7 linked regions of the Homo sapiens genome follow. The protein of the gene in region 1 interacts with the protein of each later gene in a pairwise test. Each region holds a gene or a part of one and is shown in the gene's direction. Other genes may lie near its edges. The genes, in order: PRPS1, TTC23, CAMKK1, ZNF497, IQCF2, KIAA0408 and UBAC1.

What was found.
Region 2: the proteins of PRPS1 (region 1) and TTC23 interact in binary tests that used the Homo sapiens proteins (3 or more experiments, as listed by UniProt).
Region 3: the proteins of PRPS1 (region 1) and CAMKK1 interact in binary tests that used the Homo sapiens proteins (3 or more experiments, as listed by UniProt).
Region 4: the proteins of PRPS1 (region 1) and ZNF497 interact in binary tests that used the Homo sapiens proteins (3 or more experiments, as listed by UniProt).
Region 5: the proteins of PRPS1 (region 1) and IQCF2 interact in binary tests that used the Homo sapiens proteins (3 or more experiments, as listed by UniProt).
Region 6: the proteins of PRPS1 (region 1) and KIAA0408 interact in binary tests that used the Homo sapiens proteins (3 or more experiments, as listed by UniProt).
Region 7: the proteins of PRPS1 (region 1) and UBAC1 interact in binary tests that used the Homo sapiens proteins (3 or more experiments, as listed by UniProt).

Annotation. Positions count from the first base shown.
Region 1 is NC_000023.11:107,635,010-107,638,509, forward strand, and holds part of PRPS1 (ribose-phosphate pyrophosphokinase 1), read left to right. Parts: intron 1-3,500. UniProt on the Homo sapiens protein: Catalyzes the synthesis of phosphoribosylpyrophosphate (PRPP) that is essential for nucleotide synthesis.
Region 2 is NC_000015.10:99,159,082-99,162,581, reverse strand, and holds part of TTC23 (tetratricopeptide repeat protein 23), read left to right. Parts: intron 1-714; coding exon 715-842; intron 843-3,500. UniProt on the Homo sapiens protein: Participates positively in the ciliary Hedgehog (Hh) signaling.
Region 3 is NC_000017.11:3,883,054-3,886,553, reverse strand, and holds part of CAMKK1 (calcium/calmodulin-dependent protein kinase kinase 1), read left to right. Parts: intron 1-823; coding exon of another isoform or gene 824-866; coding exon 867-1,226; intron 1,227-2,126; coding exon 2,127-2,174; intron 2,175-2,616; coding exon 2,617-2,670; intron 2,671-3,073; coding exon 3,074-3,125; intron 3,126-3,378; coding exon 3,379-3,500. UniProt on the Homo sapiens protein: Calcium/calmodulin-dependent protein kinase that belongs to a proposed calcium-triggered signaling cascade involved in a number of cellular processes. Phosphorylates CAMK1, CAMK1D, CAMK1G and CAMK4. Involved in regulating cell apoptosis.
Region 4 is NC_000019.10:58,356,805-58,359,751, reverse strand, and holds part of ZNF497 (zinc finger protein 497), read left to right. Parts: intron 1-1,166; 5' UTR 1,167-1,263; intron 1,264-2,102; 5' UTR 2,103-2,116; coding exon 2,117-2,947. UniProt on the Homo sapiens protein: May be involved in transcriptional regulation.
Region 5 is NC_000003.12:51,860,354-51,863,924, forward strand, and holds IQCF2 (IQ domain-containing protein F2), read left to right. Parts: upstream 1-1,261; 5' UTR 1,262-1,313; coding exon 1,314-1,331; intron 1,332-1,504; coding exon 1,505-1,597; intron 1,598-2,633; coding exon 2,634-3,017; 3' UTR 3,018-3,071; downstream 3,072-3,571.
Region 6 is NC_000006.12:127,437,906-127,440,147, reverse strand, and holds the end of KIAA0408 (uncharacterized protein KIAA0408), read left to right. Parts: 3' UTR 1-1,742; downstream 1,743-2,242.
Region 7 is NC_000009.12:135,934,922-135,937,373, reverse strand, and holds part of UBAC1 (ubiquitin-associated domain-containing protein 1), read left to right. Parts: intron 1-2,452.

The DNA of each region.
Region 1 (3,500 bases):
TTTTGTATTTTTTAGTAGAGACGGGGTTTCACCGTGTTAGCCAGGATGGTCTCGATCACCTGACCTCGTGATCCGCCCGCCTCGGCCTCCCAAAGTGCTGGGATTACAGGCGTGAGCCACCGTGCCCAGCGATAATGATAAAGTTTTAAAAACATAGCAGAATAGCTTGTCCCTTATACTGTCTGATATCAATTGTCAAACTACATTTGTTCATTTGTTCTCCAACTTTTAATCAAACATCCTGACTCTGGCAAGTGAATGTCTGGAGCACAGATGATACTCTGTGTTCTTGACTGAAACAAGAGCCATAGGCTTCTGATACATGATTGGAAATCAATATGCCTGCCTGACTTTCATTCTCCTCCAGGGAAATGCATATTTTGGTCAAGGAGCTGATATATGGAGGATGAATGTGAGCAGCATTAAAATTTTCTGATTTTTTTTTTTTTTGAGACAGTGTCTCACTCTGTCACCCAGGCTGGAGTGCAGTGGCATGATCATGGCTCCTAACTCCTGGGCTGAAGCAATCCTCCCACCTCAGTCTCCCCAGTAGCTGCAATCACAGGCACTTGCCACCATGCCTAATTTTTAAATTGTTTTGTAGAGAGGAGGTCTCTTTATGTTACCCAGGCTGGTCTCAAACTCTTGGGCTCAAGCGGTCCTCCTGCCTCTGCCTCCCAACCACAGACTTGTTTAACATAAAACCTAAAAGTGACTCTTTTAGCTTGAAATCTCTCGAAGGGCAGAGCTAGTAGTAAAGAAAGATCTGGGCCAGACATGGTGGCTCACACCTGTAATCCCAGCACTTTGGGAGGTCAAGGCGGGCAGATCACGAGGTCAAGAGATCGAGACCATCCTGGCCAACATGGTGAAACCCCATCTCTACTAAAAATACAAAAAATTAGCTGGGCGTGGTGGCGTGCGGCTGTAGTTCCAGCTACTCGGGAGGCTGAGGCAGGAGAATCACTTGAACCCGGGAGGTGGAGGTCGCAGTGAGCCAAGATCGTGCCACTGCACTCCAGCCTGGCGACAGAGCGAGACTGTCTCAAAAAAAAAAAAAAAAAAAAACTGAAAACGTCCCAAAAGTCCCTTGAAATGACCACTGCCTGTTTGTTTTGTTTTGTTTGGTTTGAGACGGAGTCCCGCTCTGTCACCCAGGCTGGAGTGCAGCGGCTTCATCTCCCCATACTGCAACCTCCGCCTCCCAGGTTCAAGCGATTCTCCTGCCTCAGCCCCCTGAGTAGCTGGGACTACAGATGCATGTCCCCACGCCTAATTTTTGTGTTTTTTGGTAGAGACGGGGTTTCGCCATGTTGCCAAGGTTGGTCTTGAAATGGGGAGCTCAGGCAGTCTGCCTGCCTTGGCCTCCCAAAGTGCTGGGATTACAGGCATGAGCCACTGCGTCCAGTCTTAAAAAAGGTTTATCCTAAACTAGTGCATTTTCTTTTTTGTTCTGGCTGCCAGGAATCTCAGCTTCCTTGATTTTAATTGGTTTCTAGTTTGATTTTTTTTCACTTGCTTTTATTTTTCTTGCTTTACAACATAAACTAACCCCATTTGTCTTTTCTTGCTTTTGAGATGAGGGTCTTCCTGTGTTGTCCAGGCTAGACTTGAACTCCTGGGCTCAAGCAGTCCTCCTGCTTCAGCCTCCTGAGTAGCTGGGATTACAGGTGTGTGCCACCACTCCCAGCTCCCTTTCATCTTGGGTTAGAAAGGAATAAATAAGTAATTATCTCCTATGTCAGCTTCTTCTGGCAATAGAATTGCCTCTGCCAGTTTTCATATAAGTCCCTTTTGGAGTTCTCCTTGAAGTTTTGTTTGGGGAGAGAAGGGTGGGTAAAAGTGATCTTGACAGAAATAGGACAGTAGGTAGTTCCTGAAGCCACACAGAAGATAGTGCTTAGAGTGAGATAGAAGTATGGATCTTTTATTTAATAACTCTATTGCCTTTTGATTTGAACTGAAGTTTTCTCTTGTTCAATAGGTATTGTCAGCCATTCTGATCTACTTGTCTATATACACACATACACCTCTCCTTCACCTAGAGGATTAGTTGGAATATAATGTTGTTTGAGGTATCACTAAGGTGATTTTTAAAAATTTTTAAATTATTTTCTTTTTTTTTTCTTAAACCTGGTGAACAGGAGAGGTGATTTTTTTTTCTTGGTAGAGACCCGAGTATGGGCACTGAAACTTTCGTGGTAAAATATAGCCCTACTTCATACTTAGAGTAAATTCCTATGGAGTTACTTAGTAATTGGACCAGAGTACAGTTAACACAGAATGAGGGCAAGGACCACATTTTATTCACCATTGTTTCCCTAGCATCTAGTACAGTGATGAGCATATGAACATTTAATATTTACTGGGTAAATTGCCAGTATGGTAGAGGTGGTACTGTCTTTTGTTAAAGTGTCATTATAGAACAGTAGTGATTCACTCCTTATGATATTTCTACTTCTTTTGCTATTTATGGACTCTGTAACAGTAATAGGTGATGCATCAAATTTTATGTACATCACATGTACCTATATGAAATGAGATACAGGCCACCTGCTAAAATTATGGTCCGGTTATTTGTAAGTACTTTAGACTAACATGTGCCAACCATTTCATGCATCTTTTTCGTGTCTGTCACATGGTAATATTAGAAAATATTACCATAGAAAATGGTAATATTTGTATAGTGCACTGGAGTAAACTGAGGCAGTGAACTGCTTCTGGTATAAGGCTCCTTCAGAGGATCTCCTGAAGCCTAGGTGATCAATATCCACATGTAGCTGTAACCATTCACAGCATACTAGTAGGGAAGCTGTTCTTAGACCTTATTGTCTATAGAAGTATAGTAAAGTCATCCCTCAGTATCCACAGGGGATTGGTCCCAAGACCAAATCTGCAGATATGAAATAGTGTAATATAAATATATATATATATATATATATTTTTTTGATATGGAGTCTTGCTCTGTCACCCAGGCTAGAGTGCAGAGGCACGATCTCTGCTCACTGTAATCTCTGCCTCCCGGTTCAAGCAATTTTTCTGCCTCAGCCTCCTGAGTAGCTGGGACTACAGGTACCTGCCACCACACTCAGCTAATTTTTTTTTTTTATTTTTATTTGAGACGGAGTCTCACTCTGTTGCCCAGGCTGGAGCGCAGTAGCGTGATCTTGGCTCACCGCAACCTGTGCCTCCCGGGTTCAAGTGATTCTCCTGCCTCAACCTCCCGAGTAGCTGGGACTACAGGCGTGTGCCACCATGCACGGCTGATTTTTATACTTTAGTAGAGATGGGTTTTCACTGTGTTGGCCAGGCTGGTCTTAAACTCCTGACCTCAGGTGATCCACCCATCTTGGCCTCCTAAAGTGCTGGGATTACAGGTGTGAGCCACCACACCCTGACTAATTTTTTTATTTTTAGTAGAAACGGGTTTCACCATGTTGACTAGGCTGGTCTTGAACTCCTGACCTCAGGTGATCCGCCCACCTCAGCCTCCCAAAGTG
Region 2 (3,500 bases), on another chromosome or scaffold:
TAGTCCTGCTCAGGCTTAGAAAACCCCAGTACTAGTAGATGGACCTTTTTTCTAATATGCTTACGGGCCATTCAACCTCAGCTCCCGCTCACTTCTCTGGCTTTTAGTTCTCTCGTCATTTTCCATACCTGAGGTTTTCTTTTTCTTGCATTCAAGATTGGCATGCATTTAAAAATATTTGTGTTATATTATAACCAGTATGTTGAAGTATTTGGAATGATTGGGGTTTTGAATGATTTCTTCCCTCAGCGGCATGTCAGCAATATTTTCCAGATTTTTCATGTTTTAGAAATATGTACCAAGATTATACTCCAAATCCATCAAAATAAGTGAACTTTCAGAGTCCTACCCTCAGTAAAGTCATAGTTACCCTATAACTAAAGTTATAGGAAGAATTAGTGGTTGATCAACCTGAAAACTTACCAGTGTGTTCAGATGTGGGGCATAGTTTCTTCTTTTGCAGTAACTTTTCTTTATGTATCACCGGGAAAGCTAGATGTATGAAAATTAAAGAAAGTAAATTACGGTATCCTTCAAGACCTAAATCCTTTCTAATGAAACAGGCAGATTAATGGGCAAAGGACAGTCTTAACTGTTTTTTCTTGTCCCAATACCTCTTTCCAAATAGCTCAACACTGCTAACAGTATATTTATTCTGTTTCCATTTCAAATCTGTGAGCAGTTTTCAAAGTTATGATAAATGCTTTTCTTCAGATGTAGCTGAGCAGTATTTTCAAGAGAGCATGGCTCATCTTAAGGATTCTGAAGGGATGGGAAGAACCAAATTTCTTTCAATTCAAGATGAATTTTGCCATTTTCTACAAATGACTGGACAAAAAGAGGTAAGTGAGTTTGGATCACAATTGTCTAGTTATTCACAGTTGATATCCAAAGGGCAACTCCTTTACTCTGCAAGCATCCATTAAGCATCTACTGTGTGCAAAGCATGTGCCAGTCTCTAGAGGGACACATAAATAAGGCTAGGGCTCCTTTGGGGCAGCTTCCAGAGATACTTGCTCTTAGAAGCTGGGAGACTTTATGAGAATATAGATTGTCATGCCCACCTACAAAAGATCCTAAAGAAATAGTGGACAGGCCCTGCTTATTGAAGTCCTGCAGATCTGGCTGGAATAGTGTGGCAGTTAGTGTGTCTAATCCCTCTCTCCTCAGTTTGGGTAATGAATGGAGTTTGCATGTCTAAGGAAAACTATACGGTGCAGAAGTTACAGCTCAGTTGTTTAGTATTGATTCGTACAAGCGTGATTTACGTGGCTTATGAAAATAGAGCAAGACCCAGACCTTATATTCATTGGGAATTAAACCCTTGGGAATGCATTCCCTGCAAAGCCTAACATACCATTGCTTTATGTTTTTATATATGTGTGTGTGTGTACATATTAATACATATATATATATACAATCGCCCACAGATAGGAACAATTATATATATGTGTGTGCATATATATGTATATATGTATGTGTGCATGTATGCCCACACCCTCTTCTCAGCGCACCTAAGTCCTGTTTACTTTTCACTCCTCTCCGTTAAGTTTTTTTTTTTTTTTTTTTGAGACAGAGTCTTGCTCTGTCACCCAAGCTGGAGTGCAGTGGTGCAATCTCAGCTCACTGCAACCTCCGCCTCCTGGGTTCAAGCAATTTTCTGCCTCAGCCCCCCGAGTAGCTGGGATTACAGGCCCCCGCCACCATGCCCAGCTAATTTTTTTGTATTTTTAGTAGAGTTGGGGTTTCACCATTTGGCTAGGCTGATCTTGAACTCCTGACCCCGTGATCCGCCCGCCTCAGCCTCCCAAAGTGCTGGGATTACAGGCGTGAGCCACTGCGCCCGGCCTCTGTTAAGCTTTTCTTATCAGAGGTTAACGCCATCTCAATTTCCTAGAAAACCATACATACATACATATATACACACTCACACACATATATATATAGTTGTTCCTCAGTATCTGTGGGGGATTGGTTCCAGAGCCCCCAAGGATATCAAACTCCAAGGATGCTCAAGCCCTTGTACAAAATGGTGTCACATTTGTATATAACCTAGACAAAGCCTCCTGAATACTTTATATCATCTCTAGATTGCTTATAATACCTAATACAATGTAAATGCTATGGTAGTAGTTGTTACACTGTATTTTTTATTTGTATTGTTTTTATTGTTGTATTGTTATTTTTATTGTTTTTTCCCATATAATTTTTGATCTATGGATATGGAGGGCTGACTATGTATTTTTTTCAACTCTAACCTATCATGGCAAATCTTGGAAATGAAAAACTTTATTTCCCTTACCGTCTGTAGACCTCCTCCCCCACAGCTCTTTTCTCATCCTTAATCCCCCCTCCACCCCCGCCTTCTGTCAGCTAGGGAACACGGGCTTTTATGCCGATATACCTATGTTTCTCAGGCCAAAGTAGGGCCACAATCACCAGGACAAATTGGAGTTTCAGGATGTTTCTCAGTCACCCAACCCCAGGGAGAGAGAGGGGCCTTCCAGGGGCCTCAGACTCCCTCCCCATTCCCCCCTCACATCTCTAGAAGACAAGGGGAGTGCTCAGGTCAGAATAATGGGGTAGGTTTGCCCCCTCATGCCCCACTCCATCTAGTTCCTCAGCCATTTTTTCCTCCAAAATAGATCTTGAATGCATCCATTGTTTTCCATCTTTAGTCCTGCCACTCATCATCTCTTGCCTGGACCGCTCTAACAAGTTCCTATCTCTCAGCTGCTTTTTCCATGCTTGCCCTCTTCTAATCCACTCAGAATAAGGAAGCCATGGTGATGTTTCCAAAAAGCAGATCTGACCACTGAACACTCACTTGTAAAAGCCAGTCCACTGGCTCCCCGATGCCCTCAGGATAAACCAGAATCCTGACATGGCCCACAGTACCGTCCACGACCTGGACTCCACTGACATTTCCAGGCTCATTTTTGCCTCCTCTCCCTGATCCATGTTCCTGCCACACTGGCCTTTTCTAATTCCCACTTCCGGGCAGTGCCAGCTTCTGTTTCCTCCTCCTGGAAGGCCCTTCCTCATTCATCTCCAGGCCAATGCTAACCCATTCTTCATTTCTTACCAGCTTCTCTGATTCCTCTCCCCAGGCTTCATTAGATACTCCCCATTATTCTTCCTTAGAGAATCCATTTGATGTCATCAAATATTTGTAAGTATATATTCATGTGGATATTTAACATCTATCTTGCAACTAGACCGAACCTGTGAAAGCAGAGACCCTCTTGCCTGTGGTGAGGAGTGATGAGCAGAGAGGTGGATGCATGTTTGGCCACAGGCCAGCTGACTGTTCTGACTCCTGTGGGCCATGCATCAGTTCCCCTGTACTGCCTGGCTTCCCACCATAGTGTCTTGCTGAGTCAGCCAATGCTCAGTGTCACTGATGCTATGCCTCACTGCCCTTGCCCAAGTCACCCAGATCAGTGTTGATCAAAAGATGCACCTCACTCTCCTAAGCTGCCCTCGAAGATTTTAGCAAA
Region 3 (3,500 bases), on another chromosome or scaffold:
TTCACACGATTCTCCTGCCTCAGCCTCCCGAGTAGATGGGATTTCAGGTGCACGCCACCATGCCTGGCTAATTTTTGTATTTTTAATAGAGACAGAGTTTTGCCATGTTAGCCAGGCTAGTCTCGAACTTCTGACCTCAGGTGATCCACCTGCCTCGGCCTCCCAAAGTGCTGGGATTACAAGTGTGAGCCACCATGTGGGGCCCATCCCCTTGTTTTGACAGACGTCAATGAGGCAGGGCTGGCTGGAGTCGGGAGCCCCAGGGAAGTCTTCCTGGAAGCAGTGAGAGGGATGGGGGTAGGAGGCTGAAACATCAAGGAGGGCTCCCTGGAGGAGGCGGGTGGGTCTGAAGCATCAGCAAGGCTTCTGAGTTACTAGTGTCTAGCTCAGCTTCCAGGAGGCAGTGTCGGAGTGCTCTGCTGTCAAGGGTTGGGACTCATGACTCACAGGGCTGCATGCTGTGCTGGGGCTGAGCTGACCCTGGGCTCTGCCCCTTCCAGTGCTGCTGGGCCTCCAGGCTTCTGCCCTGTCTGTCCTGATTCCAGAATATCAGATTCTCTCTGCTTCCCTGTGAAGCCAGCAGGCAGAAGTGACTGCCTCTGTTACCGGCAGGGATACTGAGGCCTAGAGGGCTGGCATGCGGCAGAACCGATGTGAATTCATTCAGGTCATAGGGACAGACTTGAGTTTGGGTGTTGGCAATCCCGGTAGAGGGAACAGCCAGGGCAAAGGCATGGAGGTGGGACCCACAGCGCTGTGGCTACCTTACCTGGTAGCCAGCCTGACACCCAGGAGTGAAGCCTTCTCTGCCTTCTTTTCTCAGGTTCCCAACAAGGCTACGCAGAAGAACCCCCTTGACTGAAGCAATGGAGGGGGGTCCAGCTGTCTGCTGCCAGGATCCTCGGGCAGAGCTGGTAGAACGGGTGGCAGCCATCGATGTGACTCACTTGGAGGAGGCAGATGGTGGCCCAGAGCCTACTAGAAACGGTGTGGACCCCCCACCACGGGCCAGAGCTGCCTCTGTGATCCCTGGCAGTACTTCAAGACTGCTCCCAGCCCGGCCTAGCCTCTCAGCCAGGAAGCTTTCCCTACAGGAGCGGCCAGCAGGAAGCTATCTGGAGGCGCAGGCTGGGCCTTATGCCACGGGGCCTGCCAGCCACATCTCCCCCCGGGCCTGGCGGAGGCCCACCATCGAGTCCCACCACGTGGCCATCTCAGATGCAGAGGTTGGTGGGGCAGAACGAGGGGTTGTTCATGAGCCCCTCAGTAGTCTGCAATGAAGACTCTTTCCTGCCCCTGTCTGTGCCACACGGCTATCTAGCTTTGGTTTGCATACCCTCAGAGCTGGGGAGATCACTACCTAACAATATAGCTTCTTCCCAACCAGGGGAGCTCCAGCTGAGCCAAAGGCTGCCTTCCCTAAGTCCTGCTATTCCCACTCCCAGCCCAGGCCTAGGAAATAGGTCTCTCCCTGGTCCCCTATGTAGTCTTCTTAGAGATGTGAAGATAGATGCTATGTCCCCCTTCCCCCCTAACTCTTCTCCAGCTTGCACCCCTCGCCTCTAATTCTGCCTCTTAGAGTCTGCTGTGACTCAGAAGCGGCCGGCCTGCCTCCAGCCTCTGGGCTTCTGCTGGAGTTCTTGCCATTTAGGTCTGAAAGTGAACTCAGGTTCCAAGCAGTCTACAGATGTCAGGGGCTGAGCTTTCTGTGCCTGAACCCAGGCTCTCAGCCTCTGTGCCCAGGGCTCCTCATCTTGTCCTTGGAGTCTAGACCTTCTCATTCAGCTGCTTCTGGAAATAGTTGCTCATGGGTTTCTCATGGATTAGGGTCTTCCAGACTCCAGAATCCAGACAGGAATTAGCGTTTTCCCTTCACCACTGCTTCTGGGGAACAAGGCACAGCCATGGCGTCACCATCCATGTTTTCAAACATGAGCCACGTCTTCTCGTCACATACGGGGGCGATGGCACCACCAACTTCCCCATCCAAACTCAAAAGCTTGGTGAGACCTGGGGGTCCGGGAATGAGGAGCTTATGGCCAGAATTGGACCCTGAACGGGCTCTGAGGTAGGAGCAGTGCTGCCTCCGGACCCAGCTCCACCTGGTGCTCGCTCTTCCCCCACAGGACTGCGTGCAGCTGAACCAGTACAAGCTGCAGAGTGAGATTGGCAAGGTAGGAGTGGGCAGGCCGAGAGCAGTGGGGGCTTCGGGATTCTCTGTTTGGCGCTGCTCCTTCTCTCGTGTGGGAGGGAACGGGAGGCAGAGCCAGGCAAGTCCTAGCCTGGAGGTGAGGACAGTTTCGTGCCCTGTGGGAAGTACCCAGGTACCCAGGGGGAGGGTGGAAGATGGCTCCTGATTCCCGACTCTCTGAGTTCTTGACAGTGGACAAGGAGGGACTGAGGGAGGCATGGAGCCATGTGGAGCCAAGCAGGGGCAGTTACCAGGGCGCAGGAGTCCCCTCCCCATCTGCTACAATATTTGCCCGTGAGCCAGCTGGTGGTGGGTAGTGCAGATGGGGTGCAGGAGAGACCAGAGCTGCTCGGCTCCCCACCTCCTGAGCTGGTCCTGGGAGGGGTTGCCCTGTCCAGGTGGGGCTGACTGATGCCTATCTGCAGGGTGCCTACGGTGTGGTGAGGCTGGCCTACAACGAAAGTGAAGACAGACACTATGTGAGTCTGGGGATACGAGGGAGGTGTTGCCCAAGCCAGGCCCTGGAAGCCTGAGGGGTGGGGCAGGAGTTGTGCTTAGGAGATAGAGGACAGGGCTGCCTGAGAGTGAGCTCCCTGTCCCTAGGGGTATGCAAAGGAATGAGCTTCCTAACCCTGGGGATATGCAAGCAGAGACTGGATTCCTCTGAGGGGAAAGCTCCAGAAAGGCTTGCTGGGGGAATAAGGGGAAGGGCTAGGCTCAGATATGGCCACCCCCAACCCCGCTTAACACTTACCTGGGCCACACCCTCAGGGCCAGTAGCAGATGTCCAGTGTGCCTCTCCGGACCTCAGTCCACATGTACCAGCCTGTTCTAGCCCCTGGTGGCTGCACAGTAGTGACATTTCTGTCCCTCCTTCCTTAGGCAATGAAAGTCCTTTCCAAAAAGAAGTTACTGAAGCAGTATGGCTTTCCACGTATGTATCTTCTGATCCTGTCCCTGGGAGCTCCTAGCCTGGAGGCAGAGGAGGAGACCTCGATCCTGAGCTAGTTTTGGCTAGGAATGGGGTAGAGAGGGAGACAGCGTGAGCAGAGGCCTGGGGACAGAATGTGCCCTGTGGGTTGGGACAAGACCACGGGCATGCAAGACTCTTGCTTGAGACTGGTTTGGGGGCCACGGTGAGGCCCAGCCACCTGGAACAGGTGTTTGAGTTCTCTTCCTGGTCACAGGTCGCCCTCCCCCGAGAGGGTCCCAGGCTGCCCAGGGAGGACCAGCCAAGCAGCTGCTGCCCCTGGAGCGGGTGTACCAGGAGATTGCCATCCTGAAGAAGCTGGACCACGTGAATGTGGTC
Region 4 (2,947 bases), on another chromosome or scaffold:
TCCACCCACCTCGGCCTCCCAAAGTGCTAGGACTACAGCCGTCAGCCACCGCACTTGGCCTAACTTAAATTTTTAAAACACTTCCTGGAGGGGACAAACAGGACCCATCTGCTGGTCTGACTCTGGGTGTCCTGTTCACAGTCTCTGTCTTAGTTGTTCTGTGTGTGGGATGAAGGGTGCCAAGGAGACAGGGCAGGGCAGGGACCCTCAAGAAAAGCGGGGAGGCGGGGGGAAGGGATGGTACAAGCAGCCATGGCACCTCAGTGTGTCCCTCAGGCACCTGGACACACAGGTGGGCAAAGATGCTGACACTGGGGGCCAGAAACGCCGATACCCCCATTCTTCCATTTTTACTCAGTCTCAGGTGGTCCCAAGGAGGGGACCTTCGTGGCCTTGCTGTGCTCACAGGCTCACCTTTGTGTTTCCAGCTGCAGAGAAAGTACCCTGGGCCATGCAGCTGCACTCCCCTCCCAGGAAAGGGGCAGGATGGCTGCCCAGATGAGTGAGGCATCAGCCCTGGCCCCCCAGGTCTTCCCGAGTCCACTGGAACTGATGGTGGGTGAGCCCAGCTCCAAGAGCCCTGGCCAGTGCTTCTGGGGGTTCTGCTATGAGAAGGCAGCAGGGCCCCGAGGGGCCCTGGCTCAGCTGCGTGAGCTGTGTTGCCAGTGGCTGATGCCTGAGGCCTGCTCCAAGGAGCAGATGCTGGAGCTCTTGGTGCTGGAGCAGTTATTGGGCACACTGCTCCCAGAGATCCAGGCCTACACGCAGGAGCAGTGGCTAGGCAGCCCTGAGGAGGCCACTGCCCTGGCAGAGCGGCTACAGCAGGAGTCAGCTGGGCCAGGACTCCAGATGAGTGGGGGCTGGTCTGGGGGCTGGGTGTGCTTCCCCTGCTCACGACCCCAGCTGAGCCAGCACTGGGGCCAGTCGTGGGTTGGTGGCTGAGAGGGCCTGGGGGCTGTGGGAAAGTGATGGTGACAGGTGGGAGTTTGGTGGTCTTGGCTTGGACGGCAGAGTCAGAGATCTCCAGTCCACACCTGTGTGCTCCGCATTGTGTCCTGAGAACTGAAGGTGCAGAGAAGGGTGGGTCATGCCACCGCATGCCCCTTGTTTTCTCAGATCTGCTAGGCTGAACACCTCACCCTGCCCTGCTGCCTTCCTGTCCCCAGGTGCCAGCCCCCAGGCCCCAAGAGGAGCTGGTCCCCAGGACAGAGGAGGGAGAGGAGCAAGAGGCTCCCCTGGGCCCCTTCCAGGCCCCACCTCCAGGTATGGCACCATCTACACACTTGTCCCTGCCCTGCCTTGGCAGCGGGGCTGGAGACTACACAAGGATGATAAGGTGCTCAGGGCAAATGAGGATGGGTTTTGCTCGCTGTAGAGACTTCGCTGTGGGAAGGATCGGCTGGACAGGCAGGCATGGCCTTAGGACCAAGGAGGCCCTCCCACCCTTGGCCTCTCTCTCTCTCAGGGATCTGGGCTGCACAGCCACCCCATGCCTTGGACCACCTGGTCTGACCTGCACAGAGGCCTGGTGTGGACATTGCCTGGGTAACAGCCACTGAGATCCTCCAGCCTGGACATGCTGCCCATACTGTGTGGAGGGGACTACCCAGGGATCCGGCCAGGGTGGAGTGGGTGAGGCAGACATAGCTGTGTTTGGGTCAGGCGGTGTCCTCCAGCCTTCAGGAATGGAGACGGGTCCATCGTGTTCCTCACAAACTGGAGTCTCCACCTTCTTGACACTTGGGGCCCCACCCTGTGAAGCAAGGAGAGGAGAGTGGTGCCACAGTAGGGCCAGTGCAGGTGCGTGGGCAACTTTGAGTCCTTCTGCGATGCTGGCGCCCCCTCCCCTCCTGCTGGGCCGGGCCGGGTGTGGGGATGTGCACGTGGCCCTGTCAGGCAGGCCCAGAGTGCTGGCCCATCCCCCGAGTGTCTAGCCCGCCTGCTGGCCTTCCTGCTCCAGGCTCCAGAGGGCATTGGGCATCCAGGGACCTGGAGGAGAAGAGTGGGGGATGACAGCCCACCCACCGTCGTGTCCCCCTCAGGCCCTCTGTCTGGTGTTCTTTGTATTCTCTAAGGTACTTGCCTTTTCTCTCCTGTTTTAGGTCACAGGCGCGAGATGGAGTCCCCAAGAGGGTGGACCCTGCAGGTGGCCCCAGAGGAAGGCCAGGTCCTCTGCAATGTGAAGACTGCCACGAGGGGCCTCTCTGAGGGGGCTGTGTCTGGAGGCTGGGGGGCCTGGGAAAACTCCACGGAGGTTCCGAGGGAGGCAGGGGACGGCCAGCGGCAGCAAGCCACACTGGGGGCGGCGGACGAACAGGGAGGCCCCGGCAGGGAGCTGGGCCCCGCAGACGGTGGGCGGGACGGGGCTGGGCCCAGGAGCGAGCCTGCAGACCGGGCGTTGCGCCCTTCGCCTCTCCCAGAGGAGCCGGGCTGCCGGTGCGGGGAGTGCGGCAAGGCGTTCAGCCAGGGCTCTTACTTGCTGCAGCATCGGCGCGTGCACACAGGCGAGAAGCCGTACACGTGCCCCGAGTGCGGCAAGGCCTTCGCCTGGAGCTCCAACCTCAGCCAGCACCAGCGCATCCACAGCGGCGAGAAGCCCTACGCTTGCAGGGAGTGCGGCAAGGCCTTCCGCGCGCACTCGCAGCTCATCCACCACCAGGAGACACACAGCGGCCTGAAGCCCTTCCGCTGCCCGGACTGCGGCAAGTCCTTCGGCCGAAGCACCACGCTGGTGCAGCACCGACGCACGCACACGGGCGAGAAGCCCTACGAGTGCCCGGAGTGCGGCAAGGCCTTCAGCTGGAACTCCAATTTCCTGGAGCACCGGCGCGTGCACACGGGCGCGCGGCCGCACGCCTGCCGGGACTGTGGCAAGGCCTTCAGCCAGAGCTCCAACCTGGCCGAGCACCTGAAGATCCACGCGGGCGCACGGCCACACGCCTGTCCC
Region 5 (3,571 bases), on another chromosome or scaffold:
ATAAATACATACTTTAAAAAATAAAAGAACAAAAAAATGAAAAAAATAAATAGCCAGGCATGGTGGTGTGTGCCTGTAGTCCCAGCTACTCAGGAGGCTGAGGTGGGAGGATCACCTGAGTCCAGGAAGGTCAAGCCTGCAGTGAGCCAAAGTTGCACCACTGCACTCCAGCCTGGACAACAGAGTGACACCCTATCTCCAAAAAAGAAAAAGAGAGAAAGAAAATCATTTTCTCTTAGTGTTCAAATTTGTCACCATCAATATTTCCTTGTATTTATTTAAATTTCCCTGTGGCTATTTCACCTTTTTCATTCCACTTCATTCTCTTGATTACCCAGGTTGGTAAACTGTGTATCTTTAAAACTGGTCTTGTCAGAATACTGCCTTTTAAATTTATTTTCCACTACCCATCTTTGTTTTCTATGCATTAATTTAAGTTTTGATCTTTATTTGACTGCTTTCCAGATTCATCTGGTGTATCTTTTTCTAGTTTCCTAAGGCTTTGTGAGGCACCGAGTCAAGGGAAGAGAGGAAGTGCTAAATCTCACCAGACGCTAGAGAGTGATATGGGGATGCACCGTCATGGTCCTCCCTGCTTTGCCATGCTGATGATAATGAGAAGGGACTGTGGATGGACTTCACATGAGGAGAGCCCTGCTATGGAATGGCACTCAAGTGCTCTATTTTTCCACCCTCAGCTCTGACACATCTCTGACAGGAGGCAAGCAGACACATGGTACTGAGGAGAGAGGCCATTTCTCTTACTGTCTCCTGTCTCTGAAGAGAATGAGGAAGTAAAAGCTGAAGAACAACAGGAATGAAGTCAGTGGCAAGACCAACTGGTGCCACTGACCAGACCTGAGATTGAAAGATTAACCCTCCCCACCCCCAACTCTAACCACATGTGCTCTCAATCTATCACAACACTTTCACATGGACCCCTTAGAGTTGAAAGCCCTAAAAAGGGCCAGGTTTCACATGGACCCCTTAGAGTTGAAAGCCCTTTAAAGGGCCAGGAACTCTTTCTTTAGGGAGCTCGGTTCTTGAGATGCAAGTCGGCCAATGCTCCCGGGGGAATAAAGCCTCTTCCTTCTTTAACCCAGTGTCTGAGGGGTTTTGTCTGCAGCTCATCCTGCTACAGTACAAGTTCCCCTGGAGTTTGTTTCTGACAGAGACACATCTCTGTGGCAGATGTCCCAATCCCTATGTCATAATGCAATTGTGAATTCAGAGCTCTCTCCTCACTCACGTTACTCATGCCAGACCTTGGGAAGCAGAGAAATCAGGGCTAATGAACCATCTAAGGACAGGCCATGAGGGTTCGATTTTGTGTAAGAGACATGGCCAGATCTATTAGGTGGACCAGGAATGGGTGGGTATCTCCCTGGGCTTTACAGGACTTGAGAAAAGAGAGGATGTTAAAGTAGTAATTGTCTTTGTATAGAGCCATAGAGAGAAACAGTCTTAACTCATTTATGTACTTCCCATTTAATTCTGATGACAGACCAAAGGCAATTTAATTTTGGTTATAATTGAGGATGTTGAAGAAAGCATTGAATGGAAGACATTGCAGAAGAAGAAACAGCAGAAAATCAAGGTGAGAAGAATTCCATGTACTTAAGAGAAATCCAGAACATTTATAACTACATCATAAGGTGTAGGACTTTGCCTCTTATCAATCCAGGGTCTAATTAGGAGTCAACTCAATGTTGGCTCATTTTTCCTCCATTCTCTTCTCAGTCTGGGCTGTCTGGATCTGGGCCTGACTGAGATATTGAGAGTGATTGGAAAGAATGAAAGCCTTGGGAGGCCGAGACAGGCAGATCATGAGGTCAGGAGATTGAGACCATCCTGGCTAACACGGTGAAACCCCATCTCTACTAAAAATACAAAAAATTAGCCGGGTGTGGTGGTGAGTGCCTGTAGTCCCAGCTATGCTACTCAGGAGGCTGAGGCAGGAGAATGGGTGAACCCGAGAAGCGGAGCTTGCAGTGAGCCAAGATCACGCCACTGCACTCCAGCCTGGGCAACAGAGCGAGACTCCTTCTCAAAAAAAAAAAAAAAAAAAAGAATGAAAGCCATCAAGAAATGCATAAGGCTGAGAGGTGAGAATGTGAGAACTTGGAATTAGAGAGTAGACTGTTCAAAATATGGAAAGACTTGGAGTAGAATATGTGGTCAGGGTATTGAAAACCTACCATAGTATCAAAATATGGTCATAGCAGACAGAAATCAGCCAGTGGTGGTTTGGGGCTGGAATTAGCAGATAATTACCAGGCAGAAGGTTATGAGGCCTTTCCAAACCCAGTGAGCACCAAAGAGGTGAGTGTGACTAACAAGGTCCCACACATCCCTATTGCACCCTTCTAGTTACTAATGGTTTTTCCCTTGATCCATGCACTGCAGAAATAGTCTGCAGAAGAACTCTGTGACTCTAAGATTGAAGTGATGTGCCCACAGTGGCAGAGGAAGGTCACCACCAGGTCTGATGGCTCCTAGTCAGTGTCCTGCTAACTTCCCTGAATTCTGAGGAAGGGCTGTGTTTTGAGAGAGAAAATCCAGGCTCCTTCCAGGAAGATCCTAGAAGTTGGTGGCAGGAAGTTTTCTGACTGATCGCTCTTGTCTCTGCCTAGGAAAAACTTAGAATAAGAACAAAAGCAGCTGTAAAGATCCAGGCCTGGTGGCGGGGCACCCTGGTGCGCAGGACACTGCTGCATGCAGCCCTCAGGGCCTGGATAATTCAGTGCTGGTGGCGGATGACGCTGTCGAGGGTGCTGGAGAAGAAACGGCAGGCAGCTCTGATCGCCTACGCAACCAGAGAGAGGGCAGTGATCAAGCTCCAGTCTTTGGTCCGTATGTGGCGTGTCCGCTGGCGATACTGCCAGGTGCTCAATGCCATCTACATCATCCAGGGCCACTGGCAATGCCACAACTGCCAGACCTGCGCTCTCCTCCAGGGCCACTGTGTGGTCACAGCCACTCACCTGCAGTTCCACATTGAGATCATCAACTCCTAAGGGCTGGCAAGAAGGGCACTGTGTCTACTGTCCCTATTAAAGGTCTAACCTGGTCTGGTGTGTCTCATGGGCTCCCCCAGCTAATGGGATTCTTGAGACTTGGACCTTGCTGCCTCCTCTTCTCCCTGAGAAAGAATTTCAGTGAGGTTTGCCCCCTGTGTCCAAGGACCCTGTTTTGGACTGACAATGGCCATAGGAAGCCCCAGTCTGCTCTGATATATGACAGAGCCAGAAATCCCAGTTCCCATCCCCAGCCTTATTTTCTTCTCACCGGGGGATCTGGGAGGCAGTTGGGCTCCATCTTCCTGAAGATTCTGGGCACCTCTGCACATATGGATGGACTATTGGGCCCTGCTCTGTCAACCTAGAATCAAGGTCGGCTGGGGTTTGGGATGCCTCAGTTTCCTCTTTGGCAAGCACCTAGATGGAAAGGCAATATTTGGCTGATTCTCCTGGGAGCAATGTAGTGCAGCCCCAGGTGAAGGATAAGAGGCTGGCCTTACTGGTAGGTGGGGCTGGGGCTAGGCATGCTAATGATTAGGTGGTGACCCTAA
Region 6 (2,242 bases), on another chromosome or scaffold:
TTGGGAATAAAATCATGATACTTAAAATCTGATACACATTTCAATGATAGTATTAATCCAATAGGTTAAATTAACAAATTCTTAGGAAAAAAATCTGTTTATATGAAGCTATGGAGAAATCTAGAAAGTAGGTAACGGTTTAGATTTTGAGGGACCTATGAACTCAGAACAAGTTCATTTAGAGGTGGGAAACCTGAGATTCAAAGAGGTCTGCATGGCTGCCAAGATTGCAGGGACAGAATCCAAGCCTGGGCTCACTCATGATCTGCTCTCCTGTATAAATGTCCCATGTGCATCTATGACCTTATTGTTTGCAAAGCAAATTCATATTCCACGACTTGTCTGCTTCTTACAACAAACTACAAGGCAGGCATTGTGATTTCTAAGTAAGAAGGAAAAATTAAGTAGTCAAGATAATATTTAGAATAAATATTTTTGAAGATGATAGTTAAATAGATGGCTCTTCAGACTCCTAGCTCAGGCTATTTTTCCAGCCTTCTTTTCCCAAGGAAGAGAAGACAAAAAAAAAAAAAGATTGAACAGCTCTTTTTCATTTTTGTTTTGTTCATTTTATACATGACACAAATTGTTTATCTTGCTCTCATTGGGAGTTTCTGTTGATTCCCTCTTTCAATGATCATCAAAAGTCATCACCCCTGACTTAAATGGTTTTATGAAATTCAAGAAGTTGTGAACAAGGCTTTAACAAAATATTTCCACTTTTAATGCCTATGCTCTGATTTTATATAAATTTTGTATGTAGGACATGATGTTGAAGTAAAACCAATAAATAGCCAATCAGTATTCATCTCTAGCGTCAACTGAATCCTGACCTCAATCTTCAAAAGAATCAGAATAGTTTCACACTTCATAAGTTACATATACTCCAGAATAAATAAAAGCAGTTTGCTTGAAGTATTATCTTGGCTCATTTGTGCTGCTATAACAAAACACACTTGAGACTGGGTTATTTATAAAGAACAGAAATTTATTTCTCTACAGTTCTGGAGGCTGGGAAGTCCAAGATCAAGCTGCAAGCAGATTCGGTGTCTGGTGAGGGCTGCTGTGTGCTTTCAAGGTGGTGCCTTATTGCTGTGTCTTTATATGGCAGAAGGGGCCAACAATGGAGAAACAGCAGAATAGCAAGAAGCAGCTGAATGCTATGTGATGCTTCTTTTATAAGGGCCTTAAATCCCATTCATGAAAGAGAAGCCTTCATAATCCAATCACCTCCTAAAGGCCCTACCTCTTAATATTGAAGATTAAGTTTCAACATGAATTTTGGAGGTACGTATTCAAACCATAGCAAGCATACAGTAATTTCCAATATAAACCTCACTCAAAATTACAGTCACATGCTGCACAAACCAGTTCAATGCACATATATGATGATAAGATTATAATACAATATTTTTGCTATACTTTTTCTATGTTTACATATACAGATATCATTGTGTTACAATTGCCTTTAGTATTCAGTACAGTAACATGCTGTACAGGTTTGTAGCCTAGGAGCAATAGATCATACTTTCAAGCCTACCATCTAGATTTATATAATTACACTCTGTGATGTTCGCTCAGTGATGAAATCACCTGAGAACACGTTTCTCAGATCATATCCCTGTTGTTAAGCAATGTGACTGCAATTGTGCTCTGCTGCCAGTTTATTTTTGAAGCTTTATTTTTCAATTACTTACTCATGGCAATTTTATAAGAATCATTAAACAAATTTAATCCAGCTATTTGGGATCTGCAGATTTTTTCTTACATAATGCTGACCAGTCTCAACACCAAATTGTCTAACCTGAATTATATATTTGTTTATTTGAATATTTTCTTAAAATTTTCTGTTTAAAATTAACCCAGTAAAGGGTTTTTTGAGTTAATGATATCTGTAGTAAAATAGTTCATTTGCAATGAAAGCCAGAGAAGCACCCACAATATTCTTTAGAGGAAGCTACATGTAGGAGTAATAGGGGGCAAAAGTCTCCATCTGTGAAAACTCAGGAGGTAAATGATTGGGAATAAAGATTCTTCCTAGAAAAGCAGAGGTAAGGAGAGAGATACTGAGACCTGGCATGCCACCTAGTTAAAGATGGTGGCCATGTAGCCCACAGAGCCAGAGCTAAGTGAATTTATGAGGTATTCTACTTAGCAAAAGCAAGCATCTAGGCTTTCCAGACAGATCCAGGGGCTGGGAAAAGCACTACATCGAGGACTCCAGGGTGGACAGTGCTCACAG
Region 7 (2,452 bases), on another chromosome or scaffold:
CGCCTCCCAGGTTCAAGCAATTCTCCTGCCTCAGCCTCCTGAGTACCTGGGATTACAGGCGTGCACTACCACGCCTGGCTAATTTTTCGTATTTTAGTAGAGACGGCTTTCACCATGTTTGCCAGGCTGGTCTCGAACTCCTGACCTCGTGATCCACCTGCCTCAGCCTCCCTAAGTGCTGGGATTACAGACCTGTTGGTCCCCAGGAGCTGAGTTCCTGGATGTTGGGAGGGCCTTTGCCACCCGAGCAGGCTGGAAGTGTCTCTGGAGCTGCGATGGCCGTGCCCTGATCTTGAAGGCTGGCCTTCTTTCAGAAGCGTATTGGCCGCCTGTAGAACCTTGGCTGTGAGAGACCTTCCGCTCAGCGTTTGGCCTGCTTTTCTCTTGGATTGTTTTCTTATTCATTCAGAAAGGTCCTCACCTCCTGGATGCTGACCCTTTTCCCATTATTTGTGTTGCAGATGCCGTTGTTCAGTTTCTGGTTTATTTCCTCACACTGATGGGCAGAATCCCGTGTTTTGATGTCCTTCAGTGTGTCTGTATTTTTTTTAAGATGTGAACCTTTAAAGAAAACCCTCCATGGCTGGGCGTGGTGGCTCACGCCTGTAATCCCAGCACTTTGGGAGGCTGAGGCAGGTGGATCACGAGGTCAGGAGTTCAAGACCAGCCTGGCCAAGATGGTGAAACGCTGTCTTTACTAAAAATACAAAAAATTAGTTGGGCATGGTGGTATGCACCTGTAATCCCAGCTACTCTGGAGCTGAGGCAGAGAATTGCTTAAACCTGGGGGGCGGAGGTTGCAGTGAGCCGAGATCGTGCCACTGCACTCTAGCCTGGGCGTCAGAGCAAGACTCCACCTCAAAAAAAAAAAAAAGAAAAAGGAAAACCCTCCTATCCGAAAGTCAGAAACACGTTTTCCTTTTATTTTTTTTTCCAAAAATGTTAAAAGTTTCTCTTAATTTAAGTCCATAATCTACCTAGAAGTATGTGTGTGGTGTGAGGTAGGGATCTTCTTTGTACCCAAATTCTAAAACTTGAGAATGGTCTTTTGTGAGTTTATTTTTATTCTTAGTGATTCCTTTCACACTGAAAGCATATTCCTCCTAGCTCTCCAGCTGTTTGTATACCTTAGGATGTTAGTGTGTGCTGCCTTGGGGTCTGTCCAATAACTTTTTCTTTTTTTTTTCCTAATAGAAATAGGCTCTTTCTCTGTCACCCAGGCTAGAGTGCAGTGATGGCGCCACTGTCCATGCAAGATCTGCCCCCAGCACACACACTTGCCCACCTCCATATTATAGACAAGACCTTCATTGTTTTAACTTGTATTCCTCTTTTTTTTTTTTTTTTTGAGATGGAATCTCGCTCTGTCACCCAGGCTGGAGTGCAGTGGCACGATCTCAGCTCACTGCAAGCTCCGCCTACCGGGTTCACGCCATTCTCCTGCCTCAGCCTCCTGAGTAGCTGGGACTACAGGTGCCCGCCACCGTGCCCGGCTAATTTTTTGTATTTTTAGTAGAGACAGGGTTTCACCGTGTTAGCCAGGATGGTCTTGATCTCCTGACCTCGTGATCCGCCCGTCTCGGCCTCCCAAAGTGCTGGGATTACAGGCTTGAGCTACTGCGCCTGGCCACTTGCATTCCTTTTGGTTATTAGCAATGTTGAATACTTTTCTGTTGGCCATTGCATTTCTTCTTTTACATACTGTCTATGCGTGTCATCTATTTGTTTTCCTTCTTTTTATGGAGACAGGGTCTTGATCTGTCACCCAGGCTGGAGTGCAGTGGTACAATCACAGCTTACTGCAGCCTTGACCTCCTGGGCTCAAGTCATCCTCATGGGTAGTTATGACTACAGGCATGCACGACCATGCCCAGCTATTTTTTTTGTTGTTGTTGAGATGGGGTCTCGTTTTTTTGCTCAGGCTAGTCTTGAACTCCTGGCTTCAAGCGCTCCCCCCACCTCTGCCTTCTAGAGTGCTGGGATTGTAGGCGAGAGCCATTGTGCCTGGCACATGTGTTTTTCAATTGCAATATTAATCCTAGAGCTTCCTTAATAGCTTCTTGGATATTAGGCACATCTTCCTTTGTTGAATGTTGTAAACTGTTTTTGCTCTCTAATTTTGTGTGGCATTTTCTGACATACAGAAGTTAGGATATACAGAAGACAGTCCTTCCTCAGGTTGGGCATGGTGGCTCATGCCTGTAATTGTAGCACTTTGGGAGGTTGAGGCAAGAGGATCACTTGAGCTCAGGAGTTCGAGACCAGCCTGGGTAACATAGCAGGACCTCCTCTCTACTAAAAAAGCAAACAAACAAAAAAACAAAATCAGCCAGGAGTGGTGGCACACGTACCTGTAGTCCCTGCTACTCAGGGGACTGAGGTGGGAGGATCATTGAGTCTGGGAGTTCAAGGCTGCAGTGAGCCATGATCACTCCACTGCACTCCAGCCTGG